Regions from separate parts of the Homo sapiens genome. Here all the other regions are linked to region 1. Evidence: fine-mapped expression QTL. A gene starts in region 1. Each other region holds a variant in brackets. All regions are shown on one strand. Distances are between the middles of the regions. Region 1 holds the start of TMEM42 (transmembrane protein 42). Region 2 overlaps ZNF502 (zinc finger protein 502). Region 3 overlaps ZNF660-ZNF197 (ZNF660-ZNF197 readthrough).

Region 1 (10,916 bases):
CAACACCAACCATCTCTATGCATTAAGCAAGTGTCTGGATGGGAGGCCAGGTCCTCTCAGGACAATGCTTGCTCCAAGATGGACTTCTTTCTGCCCTTTTCACTAACTGCCCAGGGAGGCCGACCACCAGCTATCAGCAGCCTTCAGGTCTGGCCTTGGCTGGGTGTCTGACCCATATGGTGAACACACCCTGGAAAGCCTTGAATATCCTTCAGCTTCTTCACTGGTAGAATGGTGGGGTCAGACTAGATCAGGGAGATCAACACTAGAGCCCCTAAGAAAAGGTAGGTGGCTGGTGACCAAAGGGTTCTGAGGTTTGGGCATGCTGAGTCACAGTATGGAACAGGCCCCTTACTGCAGGGCCTCTCTGAGTTTTCAGGTGTTGGTGTGGGAAGCAGGACAGAGGTAGGGACTGAGCTGAGCCCAGTCAGATCGGGCTGACATTGTGGTTCTGGCACTCCTCAGCTGTGTGATGTCAGGCAAATTATTCCACTTCCCCAAGCCTTAGTTTCCTCACCTCTAATACAGGAACAAGAGTAACTCCCTCACGGGTTGGCTGGGAGGCAATGTGTCAAAGTGGAGCTAAATGATTAACATTCTGTGAATTACAGCTTTGTCCTGGCCCCCATGGGAGCTCAAGGGTTTTGAAGAGCAGGAGTTTGCCAGCGAGAGGTGAAGGTAAAGGGAACCCAAGGCAAGGGTAAGAGCAAGTACAAAACATGTTGGCAGGACTGGACATGGTGGATTTGAGAATGGCTGACCTGCAGATGTCTGGGGGGACTCAGCATGGTGGGGCTAGCATGAGGGAGATGGGTACTAAGGAGTCATTGCGGAAGAGAACTCTTGTTGGAGTGGTGGGCTAGGGCCAGATCCCCATCAGAAGGAGCCGTGGAATGGTTTTAGTAAGCTCATTCTGTCAATTGTGCTGACCACAGTAAGGGAGGAGAGCAATGAAGGTGCTACATGGGCGAGGAGGAGGGTCTGGACAAGACCCTTCGCTCTCCTAGCCTCCTGGCTACCAGGTCCCTCTCAACTGCAGGAAATGTATGAAGAAGACTTGGGGCCAGAGATCAGACTCAGGAGAGCTGAGAGGGCCCTCGGACACCCCAGGGGAGAAGTGAGGCAGGTAAGTGCCGGGCTTCAGGCTCTGTGCTGGGAAAGTGTGCAGGCAGCACACAGCCCACTTTGAACTAGGAATTACATTCACATGGTCTAAGATACAAAAAGAACAAGGGGGCCAGGTGCAGTGGCTCACGCCTGTAATCCCAGCACTTTGGGAGGCTGAGGCGGGCAGATCACGAGGTCAGGAGATCGAGACTATCCTGGATAACATGGTGAAACCCCATCTCTACTAAAAATAAAAAAAATTAGCTGGGCATGGTGGCGGGTGCCTGTAGTCCCAGCTACTCGGGAAGCTGAGGCAGGAGAATGGCGCGAACCCGGGAGGCAGAGCTTGCCGTGAGCTGAGATTGCGCCACTGCACTCCAGCCTGGGTGACAGAGCGAGACTGTCTCAAAAAAAAAAAACCCAAAAAAACAAAAAAACAAAAAACAAAAAAAAACCAAAGGGGAATCTGAGAAAGAAAAGCAAATGACAGAAGAGCCCTAAAGGTAAACGCTAGAGGAACAGAGTGGCAGGGAATGGAGGGACCTCTGAACCACTTTCTTTCCCAAGTAAAACAAGGTCTCCAAAGGGAGGTCAAACTTTTCTCCTTGAGAGCACCAGGAGAATGAACAGACCCTGTGCAGTTCAAAGAGCCTTAGCCTGTGTGACCTCAGGAAGTAACCACAAGATCAAGCTCTAGCAGGTGTCAGAGCAACCGAAGCCACAAGGCTTCTGTACCTGCCTCACTCTCCTGCCTCCTCCACATTGGGATTTCAGCTCACTCTGGCTCCCTCTTACTCCAAAGGGAAGGAAAGAATTAAGATACCGTACCTGGTAGTTTTAACTTACAAAAAACGTATTTATTAATCCAGTTTTCCTCTTCTTGCCATAATACATAAGCATGACACAGATGGCCTGATACATCAGCATGGAACTGTCAGAAAGCCCCACCAGTCACTGCTTCTAGAGTTACATGACTGGCTTTTGTTTGGCAACAGGACAATAATTACAGCGTGGTTTCAAGTACCATACACAAAGCAGACCAACCCCAGGATCTCCAGCATCTGCGAAGGCTCACTGGGGTAGGCCTGGGAGGAAGAATCCAAAGCACTGTACAGATGATCAAAACACTTCCGGTAGAACACTGCTGCAGCTGCACCTCTCCTTACAGAGCCAGAGCCTGCTCCATCAGAGGCCTGCTTCCCTTGGCTGATGGTCAGAAGGCTGCACAACTGGATCGCCCTAGGATACAGTCCCACATGACATCCCAAGGCTGGGCCACCATCATGATCTTTCCAGCTGGTCCGTCTAGCCAAGTGGTGCTACTGCTGCTTGTGTGGAAGGGGCTTCCAGGTGGGTGGGAGCTTCCTGTGGATTAGGGTGAGTCCGCAGAGAATAAGGAACACTCCTCCCCACCACAAGACCTCCTGGCACTCTCCATACAGCACATAGCCCAGGAAGGCCTGCGAGACAAAGATAGCTGTGAGGGACTCAACTTCAGCAGGTGGGCACAACCTCACTCTCCTGGGACTGACTTCCTTCTAAGGGTGCCAGGAGGAAAGGTCTGGAGCCAGAAGCCTTGGGCTTGAAACCTAGCTGTCACCTTCATCAAGTCACTCTATTCAATCTCCCCTGCATGAGTGGAGAGGCTACCTCCCTCACTGCACTGGACCTCAGCAAAGTACACAAGAAAGACCCAGCAGATGCCAGCAGGTAGACACAGCAGGTACATGGTATTTGTTTCTCCCTCAACTCAAGATTGACTACGCTCAGCTCCATCTTGTCAACCTCAGACTACACAGGGCAGAAAAGTTTCTGGGAATCCCAACCCTCTAAATGCCATGGAGCCTTGAGTACACAGAACCCTAGGAAACAGCTAGGATGCACAGTGACTTCAGAATGAGGGCTCCACCCTGGAGGAACAGCAAGCAAGTAGGCTTTTTACTGTCAGGCTTCACTCATATCTAACTTAAGAATTCTTCCATGATTAGAATTACATTTGCTCCATGAATAGAGCACTCATCCAGGGGTCAAGCCACAGCCCAACCTCTGCTTCAGTTCCTGTCCTTTCTCCTGTCTGGGAAAGGAGGGGTTATCCAAAGACAACTCACCCAGAACCCAGATTTAGGACAAGAGCACCACACCCTCAGGCTACTCACCGAGCTGAGGATATTTGAAAAAGTCACTGTGACAGATGCAATGGCTGAAGACATGGAGAAACTGAGGCCCCGGCTAAAGAAGGTCCACATCAGAGAATTGGTGCTCGCCATCACAATAATGCCTAAGACGCATAAACCCATGCTCACCTGCAGGAGAAAGTGTCACTGCAGCCACGTCCACCCTGGGCAGCAACCTGCAGACCCCCTCAAAGCACACCCAGGACTGTGGTTGCTGGCACCCAGGCTCCTACTGAGCTCCCACTACAGCTCAGAGGGCCTCAGAGCTTTCCTGCACAGGGCTTCACTTAACCCTCAGTGGGCAGCAGACCCATCTTACAAATAAAGCAAATTCAGAGAAGATACTCATTTGGCCACCTTGCTGGCCATATGATCTTGGGAAGAAGCAAAATGCTAATCCAAAGCCAGTATTTTCTACTGAACACCGGCCCCTTATTGGTCCCACAATGACCAGTGCTTGAAGATCAGTCCCAGAGGGCCAAGTAGTTCTTACTCCGTAGGTAGTAAGCCTAGGGTAGAGTTCTTATTTCTTGAGATCAGGCAAAGCATGAATTAGCAATGTCTGCTCTGTATTCCCACCCCCAAATCCTATACAAGTTACAGCCCACTAAGGCTGACCCCCTCTGGGTATTCTTGAGCTTTTACTCTGTGTTAGGTCCTGGGCTGTGTTTAAGCATTCTCATTTATTCCTTAACTTCATTTTACAGATAAAGAGCCAGGGGCATTAAGTAACCTTCCTAAAGTGCTACAGCGGTGAGAGCCACCAGGCTTCACAAGCAGGCAGTGTACCTCCATGCTCTTAACTAGGGCACAGCCTTGCCTGAGGGAAACACCACCTCAGACTATTTAGTGATCCCAGACATCCCTTGGAGAACTTGCAGGTATTTTCTTTCTTTTTTTTTAAAGGAGAAAGTCTCAAGAGAAGAGAAGATCTTTAGAAGCCTCCTACACAAAGGATATGCAGTCCCCCTTGCTTGGTGGTGAGTTAGAAACCTGCCTGGAGACAAGGCGGCGGGGGGGGGGGGTGCGGAATCTAAATATACTTATTACTTGTAATGGTTTCTCAGCAGCTGAACACATAGTGTCTTGAGAAAAAGGTGCTTGCTTATAACTTACACCAGGGTGTTCAATTTTTTGGCTTCCCTGGGCCACACTGGAAGAACTGTCTTGGGTCACACATATAATACACTAACACTAATGATATATGATGAGCTAAAAAAAAAATAATAAATCGCAAAAAAATTCATGTTTTAAATTTGCAAATTTGCGTTGGGCCGCGAGTTGGACAACCTTGTCTTACACAAAGCAGCATATGGGCCAGTGGCAACCTGCTTAAAGGGTTATGAAGGTCTAGTTCCTGACAACAAACTTCACGGCCCATACAAAGTTATTCATTTTACTTTCGACCACTTACCCCATGAACTACACCCAATGGGATACTAACCTGAAGCATGGCAGCTACTACTGGATTAGCCCTAAATAGGCTTAACCCTAAATAATCAGTGACCACTGTCCAGGTCAGAGGCTAACCTTGGGCTGCAGACGCAATGAAACCCCTATAGCAAGCAGAGGCTGGTCTACGACGTGGGAGGGAGAGGCAGAGATACACCTTAGCAGACGCCAGGATGCAAGTTTAGGAGTTCTCAGCGTCAGGAAAACATCCAGAACGTCTCTGTCAGTATCCTCTTATGCCTACAGTATCCCAAACTCCCAATTTTCCTGGTAGTGGGGCAGACTGGTCATCTGGTCACAACACCCGTTAATTACGGAGTAAAGGGATGGGCAAGAGGCTTCTCACCTTAAGAGTCACGTGGAGAGAAATGCTCAGGCACAAGGGACTTAAAATGAGAGGTAGAGGGTGGATGTAGGAGGTGTAGTTCTTCCCCGAGAGCGAACTAGCCCAACCGGAGAAAAGGTTTTAGGTCCCTGGTAAGGGAAGAGGCCTCAGTCCCCGACGTCTCTTACCACCTACACTGGACGAGGGTTTGGCGTGATTAGAGGCGAAACACTCTCTGCCACCCCAGCTGACCGCAGCGCCGCCCGCGGCCCGGGGCCCCGGCGGGACAGACCGGCGAGGGTGCGGCGGCGCCCTGCGCCCACCCCCGCCCCACCCCAAGAGCCCCGCGGGCCCCGCAGCGCCCCTCCTCCGCCCAGCGGCGCCCCGCCCGCCCGCCCGCAGCAGCAGCACCAACAGCGCCCCGGGCTCGACCTCGCTGCCGAAGGCCAGCTTGGCGGAGGCGGCGGCCAGGGCCCCGAACGCGCCGGCGCACAGACAGTTGAATACGCCCCAAAAGCGGCGCCGCATCGCACCCGCCTGGAGGTGCGGAGGGAATTCCGCGGGGGTGTCAGGGTACGCGGTCGCGGACACGGCGCCGCCCGGAGGCCCCGGCCTCTCGGCCATGTTGCCTGCTGACACCGTGCCTGGCACCCGCTGCCCGCAGGGCAGAGCGCGCGCCGCGATTGGATGGCAGCCTCACGTGACGCGACGCTCCTGTGACGCCACGCTCCGGCAGGCCCCTTGGGAATCGCTCTCCGGCGCCTCGGAGGGGGCGGGCCAGGTGGCAGAGACCCTGGGCTGTGGCGGCCTCCGGCCTAACCTGTAGTAGGTTTGTGCTCTGGGGAGGACGTCGGGACCCGAGGCCTGAGGCCAAGCCGGGTACTGTGGACGCTGTGGTAGAAGGTAAACTTCTCGCGGCTTAGCCGTCTCCATCCCGGCCACCCGGCTCCCGGTGAAACTTATTAAAGATGCCTAACGGGCCCCGCGCCGGCCCACCGAGTCCATCCACGTCGACCAGGCTTCTCCGCTCCACCCTCCAGCCTGAGGACCGCCGGACCAAGAGATGCCTCGGCAGAGGGCGCTGGGGACCTCCAGACCCAGAAAGACGCCAGAGCCCCATATGGGGACAAGCGCATCACAGAAAACCGAAAAAATGAGGATCTGCGATGAGAGGAAGACAATGATCCATAATCAAGCCACGCAGAATCAACATGACTTCTAATCTCCTGTTATACTTACGTATGTTTAGAATGTTTCCGGCTGGGCGTGGTGGCTCATGCCTGTAATCCCAGCACTTTGGGAGGCCGAGGCGGGTGGATCACCTGAGGTCGGGAGTTCGAGACCAGCCTGACCAACATAGAGAAACCCCGTCTCTACTAAAAATACAAAATTAGCCGGGCGTGGTGGTGCATGCCTGTAATCCCAGCTACTCGGGAGGCCGAGGCAGGAGAAGCGCTTGAACCTGGGAGGTGAAGGTTGTGGTGAGCTGAGATCATGCCATTGCACTCCAGCCTGGCCAACAAGAGTGAACTCCGTCTCAAAAAATAAAAATAAAAATAAAATGTTCCCATTTAAAAAGTACACGTCCTTGAAAATAAAGTGTTGAAATGTATAAAGTGCTATTTCCACTCTCCAGGAAAATCAGTGTTAATAGAGCATTTTTCTATATGTCTATTTAGTTATATATAGTTAAAATGTTAAAAAAATTATAGAATATGTATATGCATTTTTTAAACAAAAATGATTTCACAGTTGAACATACTGTTTAGCAGCATTCTTTTTGTATCTTCTGTTTAGCAAGTTTTTATGGAAGTCCTTCCACACCATGCTGCTTCTCTCACAGGGTGGTTTTGTGGCTCAAATAAAAGCACGGATAAGGCCAGGCACGGTGGCTCACGCCTGTAATCCCAGCACTTTGGGAGGCCAAAGGTGGGTGGATTACGAGGTCAGGAGTTCAAGACCAGATTGGTCAAGATGGTGAAACTCCATCTCTACTAAAAATACAAAAAAAATTAGCTGGGTGTGGTGGCGGGCACCTGTATTCCCAGCTACTTGGGAAGCTGAGGCAGAGAATTGTTTGAACCCAGGAGGCAGAGGTTGCAGTGAGCCGAAATTGCACCACTGCCCTCCAGCCTGGGTGACAGAGTAAGGCTCTGTCTCAAAAAAAAACACGGATAATTTCAGTAACGCCAATATGGTACAAACTGTCCCATTTTGCAGATGAGGAAATTGAGGCTCAGAGGTCTCACTGCACCACTCCATTGAGTAAGGAGCTGCTCAAAGATGATACCCTCTGAAAGCTCTTATCAGGAAATCAAGAGGTGTTGCATTGATCAACTCTGCATGCTTTAAAGAATGTAAAGCAAATTTTCTTAGAACAAACGATGCCTCTACTAGCACTAAAGGTTAAGCATCTCAGAGCCACCTCCTCTGTAAAGCCGTCTCTGCTACTCCCCTACCTTTGTACCAGTCCTGTGGTTGTTCCTCTGGTTGTCTGTTTCTCTGCTAGCCTGCAAGCTCCTTGAGGGCAGGGACTACATCGTTGTTAATCTCCAGGTCCCCAGCCCTGGTGATGATGGCTGAAGTGATGCCATCCTCAGACACTGCTGGGAAGTGATTTCTGCCTCTAAGAAACTCCTGTGTACACACATCACCTAGGGATCTTGCTAAGATGAAGATTCTCATTAGGTCTAGAGCTAGACTGAATTTTGTTTGTTTTTAGAGGGAGACAGAGTCTCTCTGTCACCCAGGCTAGAGTGCAATGGTGTAATCATGGCTCACTTCAGCCTTGAGCTCCCAGGCTGAAGCCATCCTCTCAGCTCAGCCTCCTGAGTAACTAAGACTACAGGCAGGTACCATCAAGCCCAGATTATATATATATGTATTTTTTGAGACAGGGTCCTGCTCTGTCTGCCAGGCTGGAGTACAGTGGTGGATCATAGCTCACTGCAGCCTCAACCTGCTGGGCTCAAGTGATTCTCCCACTTCAGCTTCCTGAGTAGCAGGGACTATGGGTGCATCATGCCTGGCTAATTTTTGTATTTTTTGTATAGACAGGATTTTGACATGTGGCCCAGGCTGGTCTTGAACCCCTGGGCCCAAGTGATCCACCCACCTTGGCCTCCCAAAGTGCTGGGATTACGGACATGAGCCACCGCACCCAAGCCGCCAGCTCCAAAAATTAGATTCCAGCCCTCAAAACCCACAACAGGACCTAATTAACCTCGCCTTCAAGGTGTACAATAATAGAGTAAAGGCAGCCAAGTAGCAATGTTTTTCTGAGTTGCAATTAGTTGCCTCCACTGTGAGAGAAACCCCAGCCACATCTCCAGCACACAAGAACTTCAAAACGTCTGAACCGCAGTGGCCAGGCTTTCCTCCAGGACCGCCTCCCACAGGAGCTTGCTTAAAGTGCCATAAATCTGGCCACTGGGCCAAGAAATGCCCACAGCCCTGGGATTCCTCCTAAGCCGTGTCCCAACTGTGCGGGACCCCACTGGAAATCAGACTGTCCAGCTTGCCCTGCAGCCACTCCCAGAGCCCCTGGAACTCTGGCCCGGGGCTCTCTGACTGACTCCTTCCCATATCTTCTCAGCTTAGCAGCTGAAGACTGATGCTGCCCGATCGCCTTGGAGGCCCCCTGGACCGTCACGGACACCGAGCTTCGGGTAACTTTTACAGTGGAGGATAAGTCCATCCCCTTCTTAATCAATACAGAGGCTACCAACTCCACATTATCTTCTTTTCAAGGGCCTGTTTCCCTTGCCTCCATAACTGTTGTGGGTATTGACGGCTAGGCTTCTAAACCTCTTAAAACTCCCCAACTCTGGTGCCAACTTGGACAACGTTCTTTAATGCACTCCTTTTTAGTTATCCCCACTTGCCCAGTTCCCTTATTAGGCTGAAATATTTAACCAAATTATCTGCTTCCCTGATTATTCCTGGACTACAGCCACATCTCATTGCCACCCTTCTTCCCAACCGAAAGCCTCCTTTGTGTCTTCCTCTCGTATCCCCCCCACCTTAACCCACAAGTATGGGACACCTCCACTCCCTCCCTGGCAACCCATCACACGCGCATTACTATCCCATTAAAACCTAATCACCCTTACCCTGCTCAATGCCAGTATCCCATCCCACAACAGGCTTTAAGGGGATTAAAGCCTGTTATCACTCGCCTGCTACAGCATGGGCTTCTAAAACCTATAAACTCTCCTTACAATTCTCCCATTTTACCTATTCAAAAACCGGACAAGTCTTACAGGTTAGTTCAGGATCTGCGCCTTATCAACCAAATTATTTTGCCTATCCACCCTGTAGTGCCCAACCTGTACACTCTTTAGTCCTCAATACCTTCCTCCACAACTCACTATTCCATTCTTGATCTTAAAGATGCTTTTTTCACTATTCCCCTACACCCCTCGTCCCAGCCTCTGCTTTTACCTGGACTGACCCTGACACCCATCAGTCCCAGCAGCTTACCTGGGCTGTACTGCCGCAAGGCTTCAGGGACAGCACTCATTACTTCAGCCAAGCTCTTTCTCTTGATTTACTTTCTTTCCACCCTTCTGCTTCTCACCTTATTCAATATATTGATGACCTTCTACTTTGTAGCCCCTCCTTTGAATCTTCTCAACAGGACACCCTCCTGCTCCTTCAACATTTATTCTCCAAGGGATATTGGGTATCCCCCTCCAAAGCTCAATTTCTTCTCCATCCGTTACCTACCTCGGCATAATTCTTCATAAAAACATACGTGCTCTCTCTGCCGATCATGTCTGACTGATCTCTCAAACCCCAACCCCTTCTACAAAACAACAACTCCTTTCCTTCCTGGACATGGTTGGATACTTTCGACTTTGGATACCTGGTTTTGCCATCCTAACAAAACCGTTAAATAAACTCACAAAAGGAAATCTAGCCGACCCTATAGATCCTAAATCTTTTCCCCACTCCTCTTTCCGTTCCTTGAAGACAGCTTTAGAGACTGCTCCTGCACTAGCTCTCTGTGACTCATCCCAACCCTTTTCATTACACACAGCCAAAGTGCAGGGCTGTGCAGTCGGAATTCTTACACAAGGACCAGGACCGCGCCCCATAGCCTTTTTGTCCAAACAACTTGACCTTACTGTTTTAGGCTGGCCATTATGTCTCCGTGCAGCGGCTGCTGCTGCCCTAATACTTTTAGAGGCCCTAAAAATCACAAACTATGCTCAACTCACTTTCTACAGTTCTCATAATTTCCAAAATCTATTTTCTTCCTCCCACTTGATGCATATACTTTCTGCTTCCCGACTCCTTCAGCTATCCTCACTCTTTGTTGAGTCTCCCACAGTTACCATTTTTCTGGCCCGGACTTCAGTCCGGCCTCCCACATTATTCTGGATACCAAACTAGACCCCCATGACTGTATCTCTCTGATCCACCTGACATTCACTCCATTTCCCTATATTTCCTTCTTTCCTGTTCCTCATCCTGATCACACTTGGTTTACTGATGGCAGTTCCACCAGGCCTAATTGCCACTCACCAGCAAAACAGGCTATGCTGTAGTATCTTCCACATCTATCATTGAGGCTACCGCTCTGCCCTCCTCCACTACCTCTCAGCAAGCCGAACTCACTGCCTTAACTCAGGCCCTCACTCTTGCAAAAGGACTACGTGTCAGTATTTATACTGACTCTATGCCTTCCATATCCTGCACCACCATGCTGTTATATGGGCAGAAAGAGGTTTCCTCACTACGCAAGGGTCCTCCATCATTAAGGCCTCCTTAATAAAAACTCTTCTCAAGGCCGCTTTACTTCCAAAGGAAGCTGGAGTCATACACTGCAAGGGCCACCAAAAGGCATCAGATCC
Region 2 (10,916 bases), 140 kb after region 1:
TAAAAATAAAATAGTCTAGAAAATAAATTAGGGAGTAGGGGACTGGACTACAATAACTGCAGTGGAGATGGCTTCCAGAGATAGGAGATAACTTCAACAGGACATAGTGGTTGAATGGATATGAAGATTGAATAAGAGGGAAAACTGAGGGTGAGGGCAATGACTAGGTTTGGGGCCATGCTGGAGAGACTAGGTACATCATGGGCCAGCAACTGAGAGAAAATCGGGAGCACATAAGTCCAAGTGTAAGAATATGGGGTCAGGGTAGTGGAAAGAACAGTTATTTAACTGTTTCCCCAGAAGGTAAAAACATGCCATATTTTCTCAGCCTGAGAAAAATTCAGGATCAAGTCTGTTTCACTTGAGAAAATCTTTCCCACAAGAACTTATGGATATCATTTTTTTTTTTTTTTCTAGAAAAAGTCTCACTCTGTCTCCCAGGCTGGAGTGCACAGGCACAATCTCGGCTGGCTGCAGCCTCCACCTCCCAGGTTCAAGTGATTCTTGTGCCTCAGCCTCCTGAGATATCTTTAAAGTTTTCTTGTTTCTTTCTTAAGAAAACTCTCCCTATTCTAATCTCCACTCATAATTCTCAAGATGGTGTACAAATATTGCTATAAATAACTATTCATCAGGAAGTTCCAAGAAAGGTTCTGTTGGGCAATAGTTGATATAACTCATGAAATAAATATTTACTGAACATGTATTATGTGCCAGTAATTAATTATGCAGTTTTTATCTAGGAGGTATAAATACATTTTTGCTTTTGGTAAAATAATATTTTCACAAACATATTTAGAAAGGTTTTACAGCATTATTTTTACCCATAGTGTATTAATTTTCTCAATTATGACTTCACTGGTGGTAGGTTTTAAGAACATAATCTTCATAGAAAGTGAAAAAGATATATATTTATACCATACTCCCATTAATGGTAATTCATGGCCCAAACCTATCCCTACAAGGCAACTGCTCTAGAAAAAAAAAAAAAAAACAAAAACAAAAAAAAAAAACGATGAGTTCCAAATAACCAAGCATTCCAGAATCAACTTAGTGTTTTTAATAGCCATACTTTAAAAATGCTATAAGCTTCACAGCTTAGAAATTATTTTAAATACCAATCAAAGGCTATCCTCAATCTTCTGAAGCTCAATTTCTGGGTAGCAGTTAAGAACATGAAAGGAATTTGGGAAATAAAGGGAAAACTATGTCATTTCTCTCAAAAGAATAAAACACTGTCACAGTCAGTAGCAAAATGTGCTATCCTGATTTTCAGGGATTTGAAAAAGATTCTTTTAGAAGTCTTTCCAAAGTCATTCCACGACAAATGTCAACTTTCTTAAGAGCCCCAATGTCCAACCAAGTGAAAATTCTTTCTTCTTTCATTACTAATGCTTTCTCCTAAAGACCAACAAACTAAGTACCATTTTGTTAGGACATTGTTAGTCCTAGTGTGTCTCTCTCCTCTGGTCTCTGTACACCAACAGCCTAGGCAAACTTACAATAGACAGGTGTACACCTTAGTACAGGCAGGGTTATGTAGGTGACTTGCTCAGTCACATGCAGGCTTCCTGTTCTGAGTCTTATCACTCTAGCAGACCATTTCTTTCCTGGGTAACCATATTTCCTCTGAGATAGATATTGAGTCTTCCTGGTTCTCTGAACAGGTATGACTGCCTCCCCATAAACCAGTATCATGAATTCTAACTTGGTCTCCTATTTCATTCTTAGCTCTGAGTCACCTCAAAGCTTGGAAGAATCAGGAAAGACCTTCACCCTGATAATGAAAGAAAGCCTTCTTTACTGGCAGATCTATAGAGGTCAGCCCAGTTGTTGCTTTATATCTCATTTTTTTAATGAATGGATATGGATTTTTTTTTTTTTTTTTTTTGGCTCTTACTTGTTTCTGTCTCCTTTTCACAGGACCACTTCCACAGGTTGGGAGCCTCCCCCATGGTAGCATGGTCAGGGCTGCCTCAAATCTGGAGGCTAGACTTAGCACTACATCAGAGCTGTGCCACTTCACACTGACAGGCAGTGTTTAAGAAAAACATCTCAACCTGCCAGCCAACGAAAATGGGTGACAAGTCAGAATGTGGGGCAGGATGTAGTAAAGTGAACAGAAGTGCTAACAAATGCCTCCTCAAGCTGTAAGAGTCACATGGGGAGACAGTGGCAATGTGTAGGCTTTATCTGAAAAGCAGGAATTTCTTTCTACCCTGTATTCCCAGATGCCCACCTCAAGTAGGCTCTGCATTCCCTAAGCTCCCACCTCCATTTCTGGAAACATTCCTCTCAGAGTACAGTAGCCAAGGCTCCTTCATCCTTCCCTCCAGGAACTCTACCTGCCCCTCTACTCCCAGTCAGATTCGTAGTCATCCTCGCTAGAGAAACTGTCATAACCTAAATGGCAGCATTAGTCACCACTGTGAAGTTTCTGATGTCTGAAAAGGACTGAACTATGTCTGAAGAACTTTCCACACTCAATACACTCATAAGGCTTCTCACCAGTGTGAATTCTGTAATGTTCACTAAGGTGTGCATACTTGCGGAAGGTTTTCTCACACTCACTACATTTATAGAGCTTCTCACCAGTGTGAGTTCTATGATGTTCAGTAAGAGATGAGCTATGAGCAAAGGCTTTCCCACATTCTTTACATTTATAGGGCTTCTCTCCAGTATGAATTCTCATATGCTGAGTGAGGCAGGTGTTCTGATTAAAGCCCTTTCCACATTCATTGCATTTATAGGGTTTTTCTCCAGTGTGACTTCTCTGGTGCCGAATAAGGCAAATGCTCTGAATGAAGGCTTTACCACATTCACTGCATTTGTAGGGTCTCTCCCCTGTATGTATTCTCTGATGTTTAGTGAGTGGGGTGCTCTGAGTAAACGCTTTGCCACATTCTTTACACTTATATGGTTTTTCTCCAGTATGAATTCGCTGGTGTTTAATAAGAGATGGGCTCTGACAAAAGGCTTTGCCACATTCTTTACATTTATAGGGTTTCTCTCCACTATGAATTCTCTGATGCTGAGAGAGGTTTGCCTTTGTTTGGAAAGTTTTCCCACATTCGTCACATTTATGGGGTTTTTCCCCAGTGTGAATTCTCTGATGTTGCGTAAGATTTGAGTGTTTTCGAAAAGAAGAGCCACATTCACTGCATATGTAAGGCTTCTCACCAGTGTGAATTCTCTGATGATGAATAAGGTGTGTATTCTGATTGAATGCCTTCCCACACCTATTGCATTTATAAGGTTTCTCTCCAGTGTGAATTCTCTGGTGTTCAGTGAGATGTGAGTGATTGCGGAAGGAATTCCCACATTCATTGCATTTATAAGGTTTCTCTCCAGTGTGAATTCTTTGATGCTGAGTAAGAAATGATCGACATCGAAATGTTTTCCCACACTGCTCACATCCATATGGTTTCACTCCAGTGTGAATTCTTTGATGTTGAACAAGGAATGAACTACGACTAAAGGCTTTCCCACATTCCTCACATGTGTAGGGTCTCTCTCCAGTATGAGTTCTCTGATGTTGGGTAAGGGATGAGCTCTGAGTAAAGGTTTTTCCACATTCATTACATTTCCAAGATTTTTTCTGTGTGCAGAGAGTTGGACATTTACTTTGGTCTGAAATATCATTGGTTTGTATATTACTTGTTTCCCACTGATGCAGACTCTCTTCTGTAGAAACCCTGAGACGTGTAACAAGGCTTGAGGTCAAAAGCAAGCTTTTCTCAAAATTATATCCTTGACTAATAATTTCAGGGGGTGCTTCTTTGTGGATGAAAGTTATTCTCCCAAAACCTCCTTCCTGGAAAAGGCATGATTCAGCAATCTCCCTAGGAGAGTTTTCCTTCATGCCCTCACATGCATATTTTTCTTCAAATGTAGAATCTTGGTATTCATCCTCTTGGAACCTCTTTACTACTATCCCTGATGAGTCAATTTTACAGACATCCTGCTCCAGAGCAGGCTTGTTCTTGTTTACCCAGCCTGAAAGAAAACAGCAGAATGAATATCTCCTGTACAGGGCAGAGTGAAGGCCCCTGAAACTGTAAGACCTTAACTTTTGGCAGACCTCAGTAATGGCCTATGATGAAGGGCCAGTAACAGCAAGTGTGGCAAGTAAGTTAGAGTTGTAACTGGTAGAAGAGATATGCATTAGGGTAATGTGATCACCATTAACGAGGAACTCCCATGGAAGGGGTAGCTACAGACACCCAAGGAGCAAGAGAATGAGACAATAGAGATAAATGAAAAACAACACCCAACACACAGGCTGAGATTAGGGCAAGACAGGAAACATGAATGGTTTGTATCCAGAGTGGAGAGTGGGAGAATGTAAACAGGAAAATGCTAGAAATGAGAATGATAAAATTAGTACTGGGGAAAAGTTGGCCCCAGACATGTTCACCCACCCCTGTCCCCAACATCCCTATAAGAGACAGTTATTTTATCTCCTGAGCCTCACCCAGCTTGTCCTCTAAAATTTCCAAAGGCTTCCTATTGGCTGACTATTTCTCCCACTGCTTGTCCCTTGCTCACTCACCTGGACAAGTCTCTCTTCTAATGTCTCTCTCTTCAGCTCCTTGCATATTCAACATCCACAGATCGTCTCTTCGCTTTGATTGGAAAACACTTCAGGTCTGGAAAACTGGGAACCCTGCTCATGGGGAGAAAAGGTGCAGGGAGGGAGGGAATATTACTGTCCCAGTAAACAGAACGAAAACAAAGAGCTGTTGCCTAGGGACACTATCTAATAACACACACAATAACTCTCAGGATAACAATGTGGAAGCATCCGCAAAAATCAGCATTGGCTTGTAGCCTCCTAGGTTCACACCCCATTTGCCAGCTGTTCAAGAAGTGGTAACATCAGACTAACATACTATCAAATATTTAAGCACTTGATAAGTAAATCAGAATGTTATTCATTACCTTTTTATAATTATAAAGATTAAACGAATAGGAATATTCACATCAATTAGTACACTCTGGCCATCATACAAT[A/C]ATCTATATGAAAAGCCAGTTAATATAGTTAAAAGTTGTATAGCAAAATGTCCTCATAGCAAAGCTTGTGCATTAAGTCTGATTTACCCACTTCTACCAAATGCCAAGGAGCTGAGATAGTGTTAGGGAATGCTATCTACTTGATACAAACTAGAGACACACTGATTGTCCCTTCTTCAAGATGTCATATCAATTAAACAGTTTTTCTTCAGGTATAGCTCAGTGTCAGAGAACAGGCTGCAGTTAAAAAGAAACAGAAATAAATTTAACTGTGAAATAAGTTTTGACTTACAAAAAAGTTGCAAAAATACCAGTTTCTGTAAATGCTGCTTCTTAAAAATATCAATACCAAAACTGTTCACTCAAAAATATCTCTCCATTTAACCTTGAAGTGAGAAGCAGAACTGGCAGCATTATTCAAGGAAAAAGGGAAGATCCAGATATGATTTTACCAGAGTCAAGAACTTGGAAGACATGAAAGAATAAAATAAGTCTGCTCAAGTACATAATAAGCTTGGTCTTGTGGACTTCTTAGTGAAGTCTGTGCTTCTGCATTGAGTTTTAAAGATTTAAGAAGATCCTTGGCCTGGAGCAGTGGCTTACGCCTGTAATCCCAGCACTTTGGGAGGCTGAGGCAGGCGGATCACCTGAGGTCAGGAGTTTGAGACCAGCCTGGCCAACATGGAGAAACCCTGTCTCTATAAGAATACAAAAATTAGTTGGGCATGATGGCAGGTGCCTGTAATCCCAGCTACTCGGGAGAATGAGGCGGGAGAATCACTTGAACCCAGGAAGCAGATGCTGCAGTAAGCTGAGATTGCGCCATTGCACTCCAGCCTGGGCGACAGAGCAAGACTCCATCTCAAAAAAAAAAAAAAAAGAAGATGATCCTACCTGGTTTTCCTGATTCTGATTCTCATTCACAGGAAGAACATAAAGGAACCTGTAAGCTACTATACAATCCTACAGAGACTCAGAGACTCATGCAAGCAGAGTTGCATTTGGGTGACTAATCAGTGCTAGACGCTGGAAAAAGAAGCCAGACACCCTATCTGGCTCCAACTTGTGTCATAGCTGGACAAAGACATTAAATGAATCATTTCAAATATGGGAGTTACAAAACTGCAAGTATGGGGTGCTACAGAATGTAAAGCACAGGGGACCTAATATAGTCTGGGTCCCCTTTAGACGTGTGAAAGGGAAAAGAAGAGAGACAAAATGAACATACAAAAGGAATCAAGCTCAGTACTTTGGAGGAATAAAGGAAACATAGTAATGCCCAAGTATTAAACACCAGAAATGAGACATAAAAGCCTGAGGCAAGCCAGTTCAAACAGAACCCTAAAAAACATTTTAAGGACTTTACCCTAAAGTGAAGAGAAAGCCATAATAAGGATTTGAAACAGTTTGATAGAATACATGACATGATTAGATCCACTGTTTTAAGGAAACATATTCCTCTGTCTACAGCAACAGATAATCTGCGTAGTGGTGAGGAGTGGGAGGGCAAGGTGAAGGCTTGAAGATCCCTTGTGAGGCTATTTCAGTAGTCCAGTATGGGGACTGGATTAAGAGAAAGGTTCAACCAGAATGAATGAATATTGGTGGGAAGGGTGAGAGAGGGAGATGTCAAGGATAATTAGGCAGTTTTGGGAGATGACAGTGATCTTTAGTGACACTGGTACACTGGTCTGGAAAGGAATAAGTTATCTTTAGTCTCAAATATCCAAACAGAAAGTAGAACAGGGCATACACAGCTGAAAGAGAGGAGAGAGGTGTGGCCTGAAGAGTTTTAGACATAAAAAAAGTACTTGAAATCACAGGAGTAACAGATAAAATCTTTAAAGCAATGTGGCTAGGAAAACTCCAACAGTGAGTCTAAACACTTAAAAGATCTCTAATCCCAGCAAGGTGAGGTAGCTCACACTTGTAATCCTAGCACTTTAGGAGGCCAAGGTGGGAAGATCACTTTAGGCCAGAAGTTTGAAACCAGCCTAGGCAACATAGAAAACTTCACCTCTACAAAAAAAAACAAAAATTAAGTTGGGTGTAGTGGTGTGTACCTATAGTCATAGCTACTAAGGCGGGAGGATCACTTGAGTCCAGGAGTTCGAGGCTGCAGTGAGCTATTAATATGATTGCATTGGCCGGGTGTGGTGGCTCATGCCTGTAATCCCAGCACTTTGGGAGGCTGAGGCAGGTGGATTACTTGAAGTTGGAAGTTCGAGACCAGCCTGACCAACATGGAGAAACCCTGTCTCTACTAAAAATACAAAATTAGCCAGGCATGGTGGCACATGCCTGTAATCCCAGCTACTTGGGAGGCTGAGGCAGAAGAATCCCTTGTACCCGGGAGGCGGAGGTTGTGGTGAGGATGGATCGTGTCATTGCACTCCAGCCTGGGCGACAAGAGCGAAACTCCATCTCAAAAAAAAAAAAAAAAAAAAAAAGATTGCATCACTTCACTCCAGCCTGGGCAACAAAACAAGATCCTGTCTCAAAAATAAATTAATTAAATAAAATATCTCTAATCCTCTAAGAGATGTAAATAAAAATAATTTAATATATGATAAAAGCAGCATTTCTAATCACAAAAAGATAGATAATTCATAAATCAAGTTGGCACCATTGCTAACTACCTGGAAAAAAAAGTGCGATTACTATATCATGCCACACACCAAAATAAACCCAAACCAATTAAAGGGTTAAATAAAAAAAGTAAAACCACAAAATAAAGTATGACCAATAATTCATTCTAGGGTTAGCACTTTCAAGCATGATGCAAAATGGATAGGACAAAAATTGATAAATCTGACCACATAAAAACAATACTCTGTATATCCAAAATACAAAGAAAATGAAGAAAAACAAGCTTTAAAAAAGTATTTTTCAGTTATATATCAAGGGATAGACAGACCTAATAAAGACTTCTTACAAATGAGTAAGAAAAAAAGATGAACTGAGAGAAAAATGGAAAATACAAAAAATACACCAAGAATTACAACAGGCCAGTAAACATATCAAAACAATGTTCCATCTTTATGGTAAACAAGGAAATGGAAACTGAAAGAATGAAGAATCAATTTTTACATCAAACTGGAAAATCTATCTTTAATGCTACACTCAAGATTCACAAAGGTACAGGGAGTTTCTCACATACCGGTGCGAATGTAAGTTGGTACCATCTTTCTGGAGCTAATCTGGCAATATACATCAGGTGTGAAAGTTGTAGCTTCAGTTATAGTTAGGATGCTGTGATCAACATTTTGTGGATACAGGAATTCAGAACAGAATGCTCATTTTGTATATACACCACCTGTAGTGTACCTCAGAGTCATCAGTATGCCATAAAAAATGACTATATTCGGCTGGGCGCAGTGGCTCACACCTGTAATCCCAGCAGTCTGGGAGGCCAAGGCAGGTGGATCACCTGAGGTCAGGAGTTCGAGACCAGCCTGCCCAACATGGTGAAACCACGTCTCTACTAAAAAATACAAAAAATTAGCCGGGCGCAGTGGCAGGCACCTGTAATCTCAGCTACTCAGGAGGCTGAGGCAGGAGAATTGCTTGAACCCAGGGGGCAGAGGCTACAGTGAGCCGAGATCACGCCACTGCACTCCAGCTTGGGCGACAAGAGCGAAACTCCGTCTCAAAAAAAAAAAAAAAAGACTATATTCTTTGACCTAGTAATTCTACAAATAGAATTTTCTCAGAAAGAAGTAAATTTCCAGAGAGAAGAGAAACAGAATTCTTCTGTTACTTGTAAAAATATCCCCTGAAATGTACATGGAAATAAAAGTTTTTCTACTGGTGGACACTGAGGATTAGCAAATTATGGTACTTCTAGTTGGTGAAAATTATTTAGGCATTAAGATCATTAAAAATGAAAATATGTGTTTATTGGGAAAAATATTTATGCCATATGTTGAAAAAATCCAGTATAGTAAAATTTCAAGTAGTAATATAATGTAAAATATATGTTTGTTAAAATATACATGTGTCGTGCTTGTGGTTTCAGCTACTCAGGAGGCTGAGGTGGAAGGATCACTTGAACATGGGAGGTAGAGGTCGCAGTGAGCTGTGATAGCACCATTGCATTCCAACCTGGGTGACAGAGTGAGATCCCTCTCAAAAATTAAAAATTAAAAATACATCTGAATAAGATCAAGAAGGAAAAATAATCATCACTGTGGTAAAATAATGAATTGTGAATAATTTCCTCAAATGTCCTCTATTATCTATATTTTGCTCCACTTTAAAAAAAAAACAAATCTATAAGAATATATAACAAATTATTTATTGTGATCATATCTGAAGAATAAAATTATGGTAAACTTTTGCCTTAAGGCCTATCTTTTTGTAATGTTTGAAAATTTTCCCATAGGAATAACTAACTTCTGTAATCAAAGAAAAAGTGAAAAAGCATAATCAGAGATGGCCAGAGATTTATGTACAAAGATCACACTATTACTACAATTGTTAAATAAACAGGCAAATAAACATTGATAGACTAGCAAAGATAGCTTATGAAGGTATCAAAAATCATAATTTCAAAGAATATTCATGAGAAAATATAATATGTTAAAACAGGAAGATACAAAACACTAAAAAACAAGAAATATGCACACATATACTGGCATTAAGCACTCAATAAACAGAAACTATTGTTAATAAACAGATAAAACACACACATTTAAAAAAGACATAAAGAAAACCCACCAAAATATTAACACATTTATCTCTAGGTCAGTTAATGGGTCACTTTAGTTTGTCCTTTATACTCTTCTATATTTTTACTTCTCCTTCAATAAACATATATTACTTTTATAGGTAGAAAAAGTTACTTTTTAAAAACCCAGAAACAAAAACAAAAACAAAATGCCAGATCCAATGGCTATGGTATTGGCCTCCCATTCACAAGATGATAGTAGACTGGATTGGGACTCAGGAAAGTTTGCTCTGCCAATAGCCCATGTGAGTGGGCCTACATGACAGGCTATTTATCTGAAAAGGGTGACAAATTAGACAATATTTACGGGTCATTCCAGCTCTGATAATCTGTGAATCCTTGATGAGTTAATTCACATAAAGCATTCAAAAAGATATCTACTCGATGGCAGGCACTCAACAGGGGTTAGATGCTATTATGGTTGATACTAAAACCTACGGAGAAAGAAAGACATCTTGGTGATGACCACATCCTTCCAATCATGGATCATCTGAGCTGTCAGCAGTTTGTCAATGTCAAGGGTCAGCAAACATTTTCTGTAACAGGCCAGAAAGCAATTTTTTTTAGGTTTAATGGGTTAAATGGAAAATATAGTCTCTGTCTCAACTATTCAACTTTGCCTTTGTAGTCTGAAAACAGAAACAGACAATATGTACTGAATGAGCTTGCCTGTGTTTTAATAAAACAGTTTTACCAAAAAAAGTGGCAGACCAAATTTGGTCCATATTTGCTGACTCCTAGGTCTATAAGTTGCCCAGAAAGTAATGTACAGGTGCTTCTACAAATGCCTATTGTGGAATAATCTGGCTGTTAGTGATTTTAAGATGCTAAAAAGATCCCTCTGCAGATCTGGGGAAAGCTGAGTATTATGGTGAAAGGTAAAAAGGAAACAGGCTCTTAATAGCCCTATCCTGCTAACCTATTAGAGAGCTGGCTTCCTCCCTCTACCTTGTAAGCTTTTCCCCAGATGCCACCTCCTTACCCCTCAATAATTAGCTAAAAGAATCTAAGCAAGCTAGATGAAGTTTTTCAAGAATTTTTAACAATCCCTCCAACGAGACCACATTGAAATGTACTCCTCTCTGAAGCCCTTCTTGGTCTGCATTTTGGCACCAAACAGTGCACTCACCCAAGCTGTGGCAGTACACTTTATCTCTTATGCAGCCTTGGGTCA
Region 3 (10,916 bases), 230 kb after region 1:
ATAAAAAGTTGCTTGACATCATTAACCATCAGGTAAATGCACATCAAAACCACAGTGAGATATCATTTCAGACCCACTAGGATAGTTAAAATAAAAAAGACAGATAATAACAAGTGTTAGGGATGATGCAGAGAAACAGGAACCCTTATACGCTGCTGGAAGGAGTGTAAAATGGTGCAGTTGCTTTGGAAAACAGTCTGGAAGTTCCTCAAATGATTAAATACAGAGTTATCATAAGACCTAGCAATTCTACTTCTAGGTAGAAATGAAAACATATATCCACACAAAAAATTATACACAAACGTTCATAGCAGCATTATTCATAATGGACCAAAAGCGGAAGTACCTAAGTATTTATCAACTGATAAATGGGAGATACATCCATTCAATGGAATATTTGGCAATAAAAAGGAATAAAGAACTGATACCTGATACAACATGGATGAGCCTTAGAAATACTATGCTAAGTAAAAGAAGCCAATCACAAATGACCACATATTGCATGATTCCATTTATATGAAATGTTTCAAATACACAAATCTACAGAGGTAGAAAGTAGATTGGTGCCTGCTAGGGCTGGATTGGAGGAATGAGTTAGGTGAAATGAAGGTGGACTGCTGAAGGGTTCAAGGTTCCTTTTGGGGTTGATGAAATTTTTTTTTTTTTTTTTTTTTGAGACGGAGTCTTGCTCTGTCGCCCAGGCTGGAGTGCAATGGCACAATCTCGGCTCACTGCAAGCTCTGCCTCCCGGGTTCAAGCCATTCTCCTGCCTCAGCCTCCCAAGTAGCTGGGACTACAGGCACCTGCCACCACACCCGGCTAATTTTTTTGTATTTTTAGTAGAGACGGGGTTTCCCCGTGTTAGCCAGGATGGTCTTGATCTCCTGACCTCGTGATCCGCCTGCCTTGGCCTCCCAAACGGCTGGGATTACAGGCATGAGCCACCATGCCGGCCGAAAATGTTTTAAAATTATTGTGGTGATGGTTGCACAACTCTGTGAATACACAATAACCACTGAACTGTACACTTTAAATGGTGAATTTTACGGTATGTTAAATATACCTCAGTAAAACTGTTATAAATCTTTCCTTCCTGGTGGAGGAACTGGGAACCATCCATCTCCTCCTCCCACTGTCCCAATCCTTCCATCATTCCCAGGATCCTATGGGCTCACACAAACTTATGCACCCTTTTATTATACAGAATGTGCCAAATTGTATTGTAATTATAAGTGGAAATGTCTATCTCTCCAATCTGAATGTACTTTAAGGCAGGGGCTAAGCCTGACAGGGGAGGTACTCAATATTTCTTAATACTTTCCTTCAAGTTTTAGTCCAATCTCCTAAATAAACATATACAAATATTTTACATACTGAAGTAGTATGTACAAGTTATCTGGGAGTCTACTTTTCTACCACAGTTTATCGATGCATGAAAATTGAGTACACAGAGTTGTCATAATATTTGATAGTGTCATAATATACTATTAGGTCAAAACACCATGTTCTGCTTAGTACTTTACCCTTAGGGAATTTGTTTTGCCCAACTTTTAACCATCATAGTTACCTGGGACTATTTTTAGACATATAACTTTTATTTCCTCTTTCTGAACCATTTCTTTAATGTATCTCAAATCAGAGTTACTAAGTCAATGGGAATAAACATTGGGCATCTGCTTGCCCGAAGCCCCAACAACATCGGAGTGCACATTTTTTTTTTAATTTATTAAAGTAGGTTCAAGTTTCTTTTTCTTCAAAGAGCCAGAATAATCAAGCAATTACATTATTTTATTGGTTTTTTTTTTTTTTTAGTTTAACTCTTAGACCTATCTGGAATTTATTTTAGTATACAGCATGAGGTATGGGTCCATGGTGAGTGTTCTTCATAAAATTAGCCAATTAATCCATATAGTCTATTTTAAAATTTTTAGGAAAGATTGATTATTGAGTAAATAGCTTTGGAACTACTGAAAGCTACTTGGATTAAAAAACAAGCTTGGAGGGTGGTGCATGCCTAGAGTCTCAGCTACTTGGGAGGCTGGGGTGGGAGGTTTGCTTGAGGCCAGGAGTTTGAGGCCAGCCTGGGCAGCATAGTGAGGCTGCCATCTCAAAAAGCAATAACACCCCTCCACAAGATGTCTATGTCATTCTATGTATCAAGATATATTGATAAATATCAAGATGGATTAAAGCTTAAATGTCAAAATAAAATGATAAATAAGAAAATACAGCTGGGTATGGTGGCTCACGCCTATAATCCCAGCACTTTGGGAGGCTGAGGCGGGTGGATCACCTGAGGTCAGGAGTTTAAGACCAGCCTGGCCAACATGGCGAAACCCCGTCTCTACTAAAAATACAAAAATTAGCTGGGCCTGGTGGTGCATGCCTGTAGTCCCAGCTACTTGGGAGGCTGAGGCAGGAGAATTGCTTGAACCCAGGAGGCAGAGGTTACAGTGAGCTGAGATCACGCCACTGCACTCCAGCCTGGCCGACAAGTGGAAACTCCATCTCAAAAAAAAAAATAGAATACAGGTGGGTTTACAAAATAATTTTATGAGGAAAAAGACCACTAAGACCATAAAGGAAAATACTGCCAAGTTTGACAACATAAAGGATTTTCTAAGGCTTAAAAAAAATTAATAATATTGAAAGGCAAACAAATGGGAAAAACATATGCAACAACTGACAAAGCATTAGCAGTAGTTCTATATATAGGAAGTATATGAATAGGAGTAAAATGACCAATAAACATATGAAGAGATTTCAATCACACTAATAATGAAAACATGAAAAACAAACAAAAGATGGTATTCTTCATCTACCTAGCAAAGATTTAATTAAAAGACTGACCAAATCATGAGCATATCCAGGGAAAATTGGCTCTCCTGTGTGTTCTTTCTGTGGGAGTTTAATTCAAGTATCATTGGTAGAAAATAATTTGGTAATATGTATCAAAGTATAAAATCTACAGACTGTTTCACCCACCACTGCCACTACTGAGATACTAAAGGATACAGTCTCAAAAGTGTGAAAATGTACAGTTTAAATTATTAAAGATAATAAAATAAAGTTGCTAGGTACAAAATTAACACAAACAAAAAGTACTTTCATATATGCAAATGACAGTCAATTAGAAAATACAGAAAAGACTCCAATTCCAAAGAATAAATATTACCAGAAATATGGAAGATCTAGGCAATTTTAAAACATGCCCGATGCATACAAAAGCAGTACAGAAAAAATGGAATGTTATGTAATGTTCTTGAATAGAAACATTCAGAATCATAAAGCTGTCAATGTAAAGCATGATACACAGACCATGCAATACTCTGCAGCCATTTAAACTGATACTGTAAATCTGTATTTCAGTCAAAGTTAGTTCCTGTGGCTGATTACCCAGTTCTGAACGTTGATTTCTCCAAAGAGAATTCTACTCTTTTCTTCAAGTTCCAGTATAAATGCTACCTCCTTTATGGCCTTTGCTAATCCCTAGGAATGAAACTGATTGCCCCGTTTTCTGCATTTCTGTCACACCAGGTTTATGCCACTCTTGTACCAATTATTTTACTCTGCCTTGTATATTTAATATCTCTGTAATCATCTCCTAAACCATTGTAAGCTATTTAAGGGCCGAATCACATCATTTTCACAGCTGTACCATGATAGGTATTTAATGTCTGCTGGTAGCAAAAATGGCTAAAAATTGTTTTGAAATATTCTTTTATTATTTATCAAAGAAATCTATTTTAGAATATATATAACTTTAAAAATATATTAGCAACAATTTAGAATTGTGGGATTACTCAGTACAAATGAAGGCAGAGCAAAAGGAGTGTTCTTATACACCACTTCTAAGAACAGAGAGGACAGGGATCGCTACAGAAAGTAATTTGGCAATATGAAGCAAGAGCCTCAAAGCCATTCAAACACTTATGCCCAGTAATTGTACCTCTAAAAATAATAAAACATTTTAGAAGGCCTTAGGCACAGAGACAGATGATTATTATAGCAGTTATCTAAAATAAGGAATGGCTGACTGAATTATGGTACAAATCATATAGCCAATATAGATAATAACTGCAAAGAGTTTGTAACATGTGAGAACACACACAAGGAAAGCAAGCTATAAAACTGTGCACAGACACACACACACACACACTTTGGAACAATGTAAAAAATCCCTCAAACATATAGAAAAAACAGAAAGGTAATATATCAAAATGATAATAGTTATCTGGAAATAGCGATGTTAAGGAAGGTTTTTTTCTTCTTTGTAATATTCGGTGTTTTCCAAAATACATATATGCTACTTTTATAATCAGAAAACAAATAAAGGCTGGTGAAATAAAGGTAAGCATCATAGAAAGAAGAATCCTTACCTAGGGAGGTCACATTTCCATAATTCTCCAGCATCACATCCCAGTACAAGGCCCTCTGGATTGGGCCCAGACATGCCCATTCCTCTGAAGTGAAGCATACTGACACCTCCTCGAACATCACCAACTCCTGAAATAACAAGTGTGTGTGAGATTACCAATGCCCAGGAACTTGCCTGTCGAAAGGTTCCCTTCACTTCTGGGGAAGGGATACACTGTGAGGCCATGAGTGCATAACAGACATCAGGGAGACATAAGGAGATCACATGTAAAGTCTGTCTTCCAATAGCATAGACCCTGATTTAGAAATGGGAACTGACTGGACATTGAAGCACAAGGATGAGAGAGGGCACTTCAGCCACAGTTACGCTGTGCAGATGGGAAGGAAAGAGGATGCAAACCTTACCTGGGGCTGGGCTGTTAGGAGCATAAGTGCCATTAATTGATTTCTTGGGTTCTCTTCCTGGGAAAGGGCAGAAGCTTCAGGGGCAGGAGAATCTGAGGAGGGAGAAAAAGCTGCATATGGGACCTACAAACCTTTTCTGAGTGACCCCACTTGCAGAGCTGGAATAACACAAAGAGTAGCAGTAAGAATGATACAAGGCAGGGCGTGGTGGCTCACACCTGTAATCCCAGAGCTTTGGGAAGCCGAGGTGGGTGGCTCCCAAGGTCAAGAGATTACGACCATCCTGGCCAACATGGTGAAACCCTGTCTCTACTAAAAATACAAAAAAATTAGCTGGGCGTGGTGGCACGTGCCTGTAGTCCCAGGTACTC[G/A]GGAGGCTGAGGCAGGAGAATGGCTTGAACCTGGGAGGCGGAGGTTGCAGTGAGCCGAGATTGTGCCATTGCACTCCAGCCTGGCAACAGAGCGAGACTCCATCTCAAAAAAAAAAAACAAAAATGGCCGGGTGCAGTGGCTCACACCTGTAATCCCAGCACTTTGGGAGGCCAAGGCGGGCAGATCACAAGGTCAGATCAAGACCATCTTGGCTAACACAGTGAAACCCCGTTTCTACTAAAAAAAAAATTAAAAAACTAGCCGGGCACAGTGGCGGGCACCTGTAGTCCCAGCTACTCAGGAGGCTGACGTAGGAGAATGGCGTAAACCCAGGAGGCGGAGGTTGCAGTGAGCTGAGATCGCGCCACTGCACTCCAGCCTGGGCGACAGAGCGAGACTCCGTCTCAAAAAAAAAAAGGGGGGATGTATACAAGCTCAGAGGGGCCCAAGAAAGAAGGAGAGAACAACAGAACAGCAGAAAGAAATTGGCACTGTAAGAGACTCCTAGACAGGGTAGCAGAGGAAGCAACTCCCTGGAAGTAGGGGGATGAGCCACAGGAAGGGTCCTTGAACAGCCCAAAACCCAGAGCACTGAGTAAATACCATGCTGAGGATCCTGGAGGTTGAATGCCACTAGGTCAGTAGGAGGATGCGGGCAAATTTCAGCTGCTATGTGGCTGCCAGGAAGTACAGGAGGAAGTGTTGTTCCTGGGGCACTCACCACCTTCTGGAGAGTGTCCTGATCCTTGACAAGGACTGGAACCTGGAAACAAGTAAAATAAGCTAGCTCTTCTTGTTTCTTAAGAAAATGGACTCACCTAAGCACTGTGGACCTCTTTCTGCCCACAATCTACAACTGTGAGATCAGAGAGACCCACCTCAAGTATGGAGCATCAAAACAGCAGTAAAGCTTTGCATTGAGAACAATGGAGCTGCCCTCGAGCCCCACTCATGGCACTGGTGACCTCTCCCAGAGGAGACTGTACACAACGGTGGGAACAGAAGCCAGACCTGGGTGTGGGTTAAGGAGGGAATGGGAAGTAATAAGCAGTAATTAAGAGCATGGATTTTAGCTTCAGACTTAAGTTTTAGATCGGACTTCAGTCACATCTCTTCTACTTATTTACCATCTACTTATTGACCCCTTTACCTAGCCCTTTGTGCTCAAATACAACTAACACTAAAATTGGCACCAAGACACTTGGTTTTGCGGCCAGCTAGACATCTGCCTCAGTTTCCTTATCTCTCAAATGAGGATGTATTAGTAATTTGTAACGAAATATATAGCTCTAAAATTGTTCACGTTATTATTAAAAGAAACAAGCCCATCCTTAATGCCACACCCAAGTTTGAGTTATGATTCAGACGTCTTATACAGAAATGTTTCTAGTGAGCTACAGATGTACAAAAAGAAATCTCACACACATGAGAGGCTACATTAAGATCCCAATCTAATGGTCAAGGATATAAATCTTATCAGAAGCAAATATCTTAACCCAATCCCTTGGCTTGCAGATCCCTAGTAGGGCACACAAGAGGAGATCTTACCAAGATGTGGAAAGCTTCATTCTTGTTATGCTACTGCCATTTTATTTATTTATTTATTTAAAGACAGGATCTCACTCCATCACCCAGGCTGGAGTGCAATGGTGTAATCATAGCTCACTGCTGCCTCAACCTCCTGGGTTCAAGTGATCCTCCCACCTCAGCCTTCTAAGTAGCTGGGACTATAGGCACTCGCCACTACATCTGGCTAATTTTTAAATTTTTTGTAGAGATGGGGTCTTCCCATGTTGTCCAGGCTGGTCTTGAACTCCTGGCCTCAAATGATCCTCCCACCTCAGCCTCCCAAAATGCTGTGGCATGAGCCACTGTGCCTGGCCTGCTATTGCCTTTTATACTCTAGGCTTACATCACCATTCCAAACAGAATTATAGAAACAATACATAGGCTTCTGTTTAGGGAAAAACTTATTAACATTTCTTCTTCAGGTTCTTGGTCCAAACTCAGCATTAGCAAGCATTACCCAAGGGACAAAACAGTCAATGTTTTTATGCTGCTTCTCAGTTGGACCCGAAGACCTCAACGTAAATCCGTTTCTCTACAGACATATTCTATGGTCTGAATACTCATGGACCTGCTTTAATTATCATTAAGGTTGCTAGTGTGCTATTAATGCTATTAATTTTTAATGAAAATCACAGGATCACCCTCTAGCCTAGCCTCAATTCTTTCCTTCCTTTCATCCCAACACCCACCGCCCCTCCCTGTCTTTCTCACTTGTATTGCTGGTCCATCAAGGTCTTTCTGCAGCTCCTCTACCAGGGCCACAGCCTCCTCGCCACTTCCAGGGTGATGGAGCTGTACCCAGGTCCGAATCTCCCCAGGCAGGATGCTCAGAAACTGCTCCAGCACCAGCAGCTCCAGGATCTGTGCCTTGGTGCGTGCTTCTGGTCTCAGCCACCGGCGACAGAGTTCCCTGAGCCGGCTCAGGGCTTCCTGGGGTCCAGATGTCTCATGGTAACGTAATTGTCTAAAGTGTAGGTGGGAGGTCTCCCAAACAGAGGAGCTACTTCCTTGGAAGCTGGTTCCCCATTTCCAGGTATCATCCTTCCCCTTCACAAGGCCCTCTTGTCTCAGAGCATTGTGGGCTACATTTTCTCTTGTCATTGTTGTTTTTTGAAAAAGGCTCCTCTCCAGTCCAGGTCTCCTTAATCCTTGACTTCTTCCTTACAGCTTGGAGAGTATCATCTACAAGACCTCAAGAAATCATTGTTAAAGTTAGCCCAGAGAAACAACTGAGCTTTCCAGGCCCCAGTCAGCTCCCAGTCAGCTCCCAGTAATAAAGAGAACCTTTGTGAGTGCAAGGTTCCAGGCTCTAGAGAGTGCTTCCTCTGACAGAAACCCCCTGCCTAAGGCTCTGGGATACAAACACTCATGTTACGCACGAGACTGCTGAAACCAAACACATGAACTTCCTTTGGTCTTTGTTCATAGGATCCCTTCAGCTAATTACAATAGACTCTTTACCACTCTAACAATGAGCATCCTGACTACTCCTGTGTAACCTGGAACAAGTACCTCACTTCTGAGCCTTAGTTTCTTAACCTGTAAAATAGGGATAGTAACAGTTCCTACCTTATGGGGTTGTCATGAGAATTTGATGTATAATACATTTCAAGTTTTTGAACAGTGCCTGGTATACGGGTTTAAATGTTACTTATTACCCTTCTGTAACTAGTACTCTTTCCTATGTTCCGCAGAGTTAACAAGTAATCATTAATCATGATACATATGAGAGAAAATCCTAACCACCTCCTCAATTAACAAAGAAAGGATGAATTAAGTTCTGTGTAGTTTTGCTCTACATGCCTTTAATTCTCTGAAAATTGTTCTTTCTGTTAATCAAAATATTTGGATAAATTTGCCTTTTCTTCTTTTCCTTTCACATCTAGTCCCACAGATGGATAAATATGAATAGAGTTTTATTATACAGAACTTAGACTTGCTCTCTAGAAATCATCTGCTCTTTAGAAATAACATTTTTCTAATTATAAAACCAGAAAACACACAAAACCAGAAAACAATCACTGCTATTATTCTGAACTATGTCCTTACCATAGTTTAATTATCATAGATAAATTCTAACTTTCCCCTATTATTAATAAGGTCACAACGGCTATCCTTGATAACAAATTTTTAGTTACATCTCTGCTTATTTCTTCAGGATAAACTCCTAGGAGAAAATTGTTGGGCTGAAGGATAAAAACATTTTTAAGCTTTTAAGGTTATAACAGTTATATCACCATCAGTGACATATGAAAACATCCTCTTTATTTGAACACACAGACCCTTAAAGAGAGCTTGCTTATAACAAACAGGGGAGCCAGAAATATAAACATAATTTCAATATAATGTTTAAGTACAAGTAATAGGAGAACATAAAACTACAGAAAGGATTCATGAAAGGAAATTTCTTTTTTTTTTTTTTTTTGAGATGGAGTCTCGCTCTGTCACCCAGGCTGGAGTGCAGTGGCATGATCTCGGCTCAGCGCAACCTCTGCTTGACAGGTTCAAGCAATTTTCCTGTCTCAGCTTTCCAGGCAGCTGGTACTACAGGCTCGCACCACCATGCCCAGGTAATTTTTGTATTTTTGGTAGAGACGGGGTTTCGCAATGTTGGCCAGGATGGTCTCAATCTCTTGACCTCGTGATCTGCCTGCCTTGGACTCCCAAAGTGCTGAGATTACAGGCATGAGCCACCATACCCAGCCATGAAAGGTACTTTTGGATTGGGCTTTTAAGGAAAAATAAAAGGATCATTGGACTATGAGGAAAGCCATTCCAGGAAGAAAGAAACTCTATTTTCAAAAGCAAGGAAGGACACATAACTCTGTGAAGGAAGACCAGAGAAGGAAAGTAAACTTCAGAGGCAAGAGTGTAGGAGTAGAGCAGAGAGGTGAACAGAAGTTAAATTCTAACTACTGCTCTTGAGAGGCAGTATTCTGAGGAGATGATCCTGTCCTGTAAGTGAAGTGATTTTACTTACATTTCAGCATTAAAGAGGCTTTACTTTACATTTTTCCTTATTTTTAAAAATAGTAATATATTCACTTGGTTCAAAATTTAAAATTATAAAATGTATACTGTGTAAAGTTTCCTTCTCCGTTAGCTTCTTATCTATCTTTCCAGTTATTTCTGCATATGTGTGTACATATATTGTTTTCTAGTTCCCTTTTTTTCACAAATGGTAGGACACCATGAATGACGTGGTACATTTTCCTCTTCTCAATAATATGTCTTAGAGATCTTTCCTGTCAATACACAGCCCCTCTCCGCATTTTTATGGATGCATAGATGTATCATAATTTATTCATGCCAGCACTGATGGAATGTTTGGGTAGTTTTCAATCATTTCTTATTACCAACAATATAATCATGAATAATCTTGGGCATACATCAGTTTGGATGTGTGTAGGCATATATAAGAAAAATTCCTTGAATCAGAATTGCTGAGTTAAAAGGTATATACATGTATAATTTTGATATTGCCAATTTGACCTCACTAGGATTGAACCAATTTATAATTTATACTCCCATCAGAAACAGCTGTATGGGAGTGCCTTTCCTCACTTTCACCAATATGTTTCTCAAAGTTTGTGCTCTTCGCCAAATTTTTGACTTGCATTTTGAACGAATTAATATAGAGTCATTTGTATATTTTTTAAAGTAACTATTCATATATTTTGCCCATGTTTCCATTGAGGTGTTGGGTCTTGTTAATTTGTACACACTTTTATCACAGGAAAATTAGTCCTTTGTTTACAATGGCAGCTGCAAATTTTTCTCAGTTTGTCAAGTGTCTTTGTGACTATATATGCCATGTGACTTTGCTTAAAGTGTTTTTTGCCATGCAGTCAATCTTTTACGACTTCTGGGTACTGTACCACAATTAGAAAGACCTTTTTCACTCTGAGCATGAAGAGAGTCTTAAGTGGTGTCAGGACTCTATTAGTGAGAAATGGTGGGGGTGGGAGGGCTGGATATCAAGAAAGGTCAGTTAGGTTTTTCTAATAGTCTAAACACATGACTTAAGTTCTAAACGAAGTAGGGATAAGGCAATTGAGAAAAACTTGGTAGTCCTTGGTAACTGATCTGGGGGTGATGGAAAGGAATTTTTAAAAAGAATTTTGAATAATTTTCAAATAACATAAAAATAACAAATTCTTAAACATACATTTTATTAGCTTCTCACAAAAGGT

The links. PIP is the estimated chance that this variant, and not a neighbour inherited with it, causes the effect.
Region 2: its variant is fine-mapped to the expression of TMEM42 in whole blood (TOPMed, PIP above 0.99).
Region 3: its variant is fine-mapped to the expression of TMEM42 in whole blood (TOPMed, PIP above 0.99).

Annotation. Positions count from the first base shown.
Region 1 is chr3:44,856,691-44,867,606 of GRCh38, reverse strand. It overlaps TMEM42 (transmembrane protein 42), which reads right to left and starts at 5,695. Exons shown (of 3, transcript NM_144638.3): 1 at 5,491-5,695; 2 at 3,264-3,410; 3 at 1,943-2,567. The coding sequence starts at 5,682. The coding sequence ends at 2,427. It overlaps MIR564 (microRNA 564), which reads right to left and starts at 5,719; the gene lies at 5,626-5,719. It also overlaps a transcript of KIF15 not described here. RefSeq lists silencers at 5,186-5,235, 5,566-5,615 and an enhancer at 5,646-6,235.
Region 2 is chr3:44,713,953-44,724,868 of GRCh38, reverse strand. It overlaps ZNF502 (zinc finger protein 502), which reads right to left. Exons shown (of 3, transcript NM_001134442.3): 2 at 4,553-4,666; 3 at 1,038-3,996. The coding sequence starts at 4,607. The coding sequence ends at 2,417. It overlaps LOC105377056 (a long non-coding RNA gene), which reads left to right. Exons shown (of 3, transcript XR_940788.4): 3 at 9,032-9,352. Among named protein-coding and RNA genes, the nearest start is that of ZNF502, 6.8 kb to the right of the region's middle. RefSeq lists an enhancer at 3,534-4,733. The variant A/C (reference allele first, on the strand shown) is at 5,014.
Region 3 is chr3:44,626,063-44,636,978 of GRCh38, reverse strand. It overlaps ZNF660-ZNF197 (ZNF660-ZNF197 readthrough), which reads right to left. Exons shown (of 8, transcript NR_147692.2): 3 at 7,435-7,905; 4 at 6,033-6,165; 5 at 5,758-5,917; 6 at 4,783-4,874; 7 at 4,380-4,506. ZNF197 (zinc finger protein 197) reads right to left here. Exons shown (of 6, transcript NM_006991.5): 2 at 7,435-7,905; 3 at 5,758-5,917; 4 at 4,783-4,874; 5 at 4,380-4,506. The coding sequence starts at 7,824. All of the region lies in intron 2 of ZKSCAN7-AS1 (ZKSCAN7 ZNF cluster antisense RNA 1), which reads left to right. Among named protein-coding and RNA genes, the nearest start is that of ZNF197, 6.5 kb to the right of the region's middle. The variant G/A (reference allele first, on the strand shown) is at 5,154.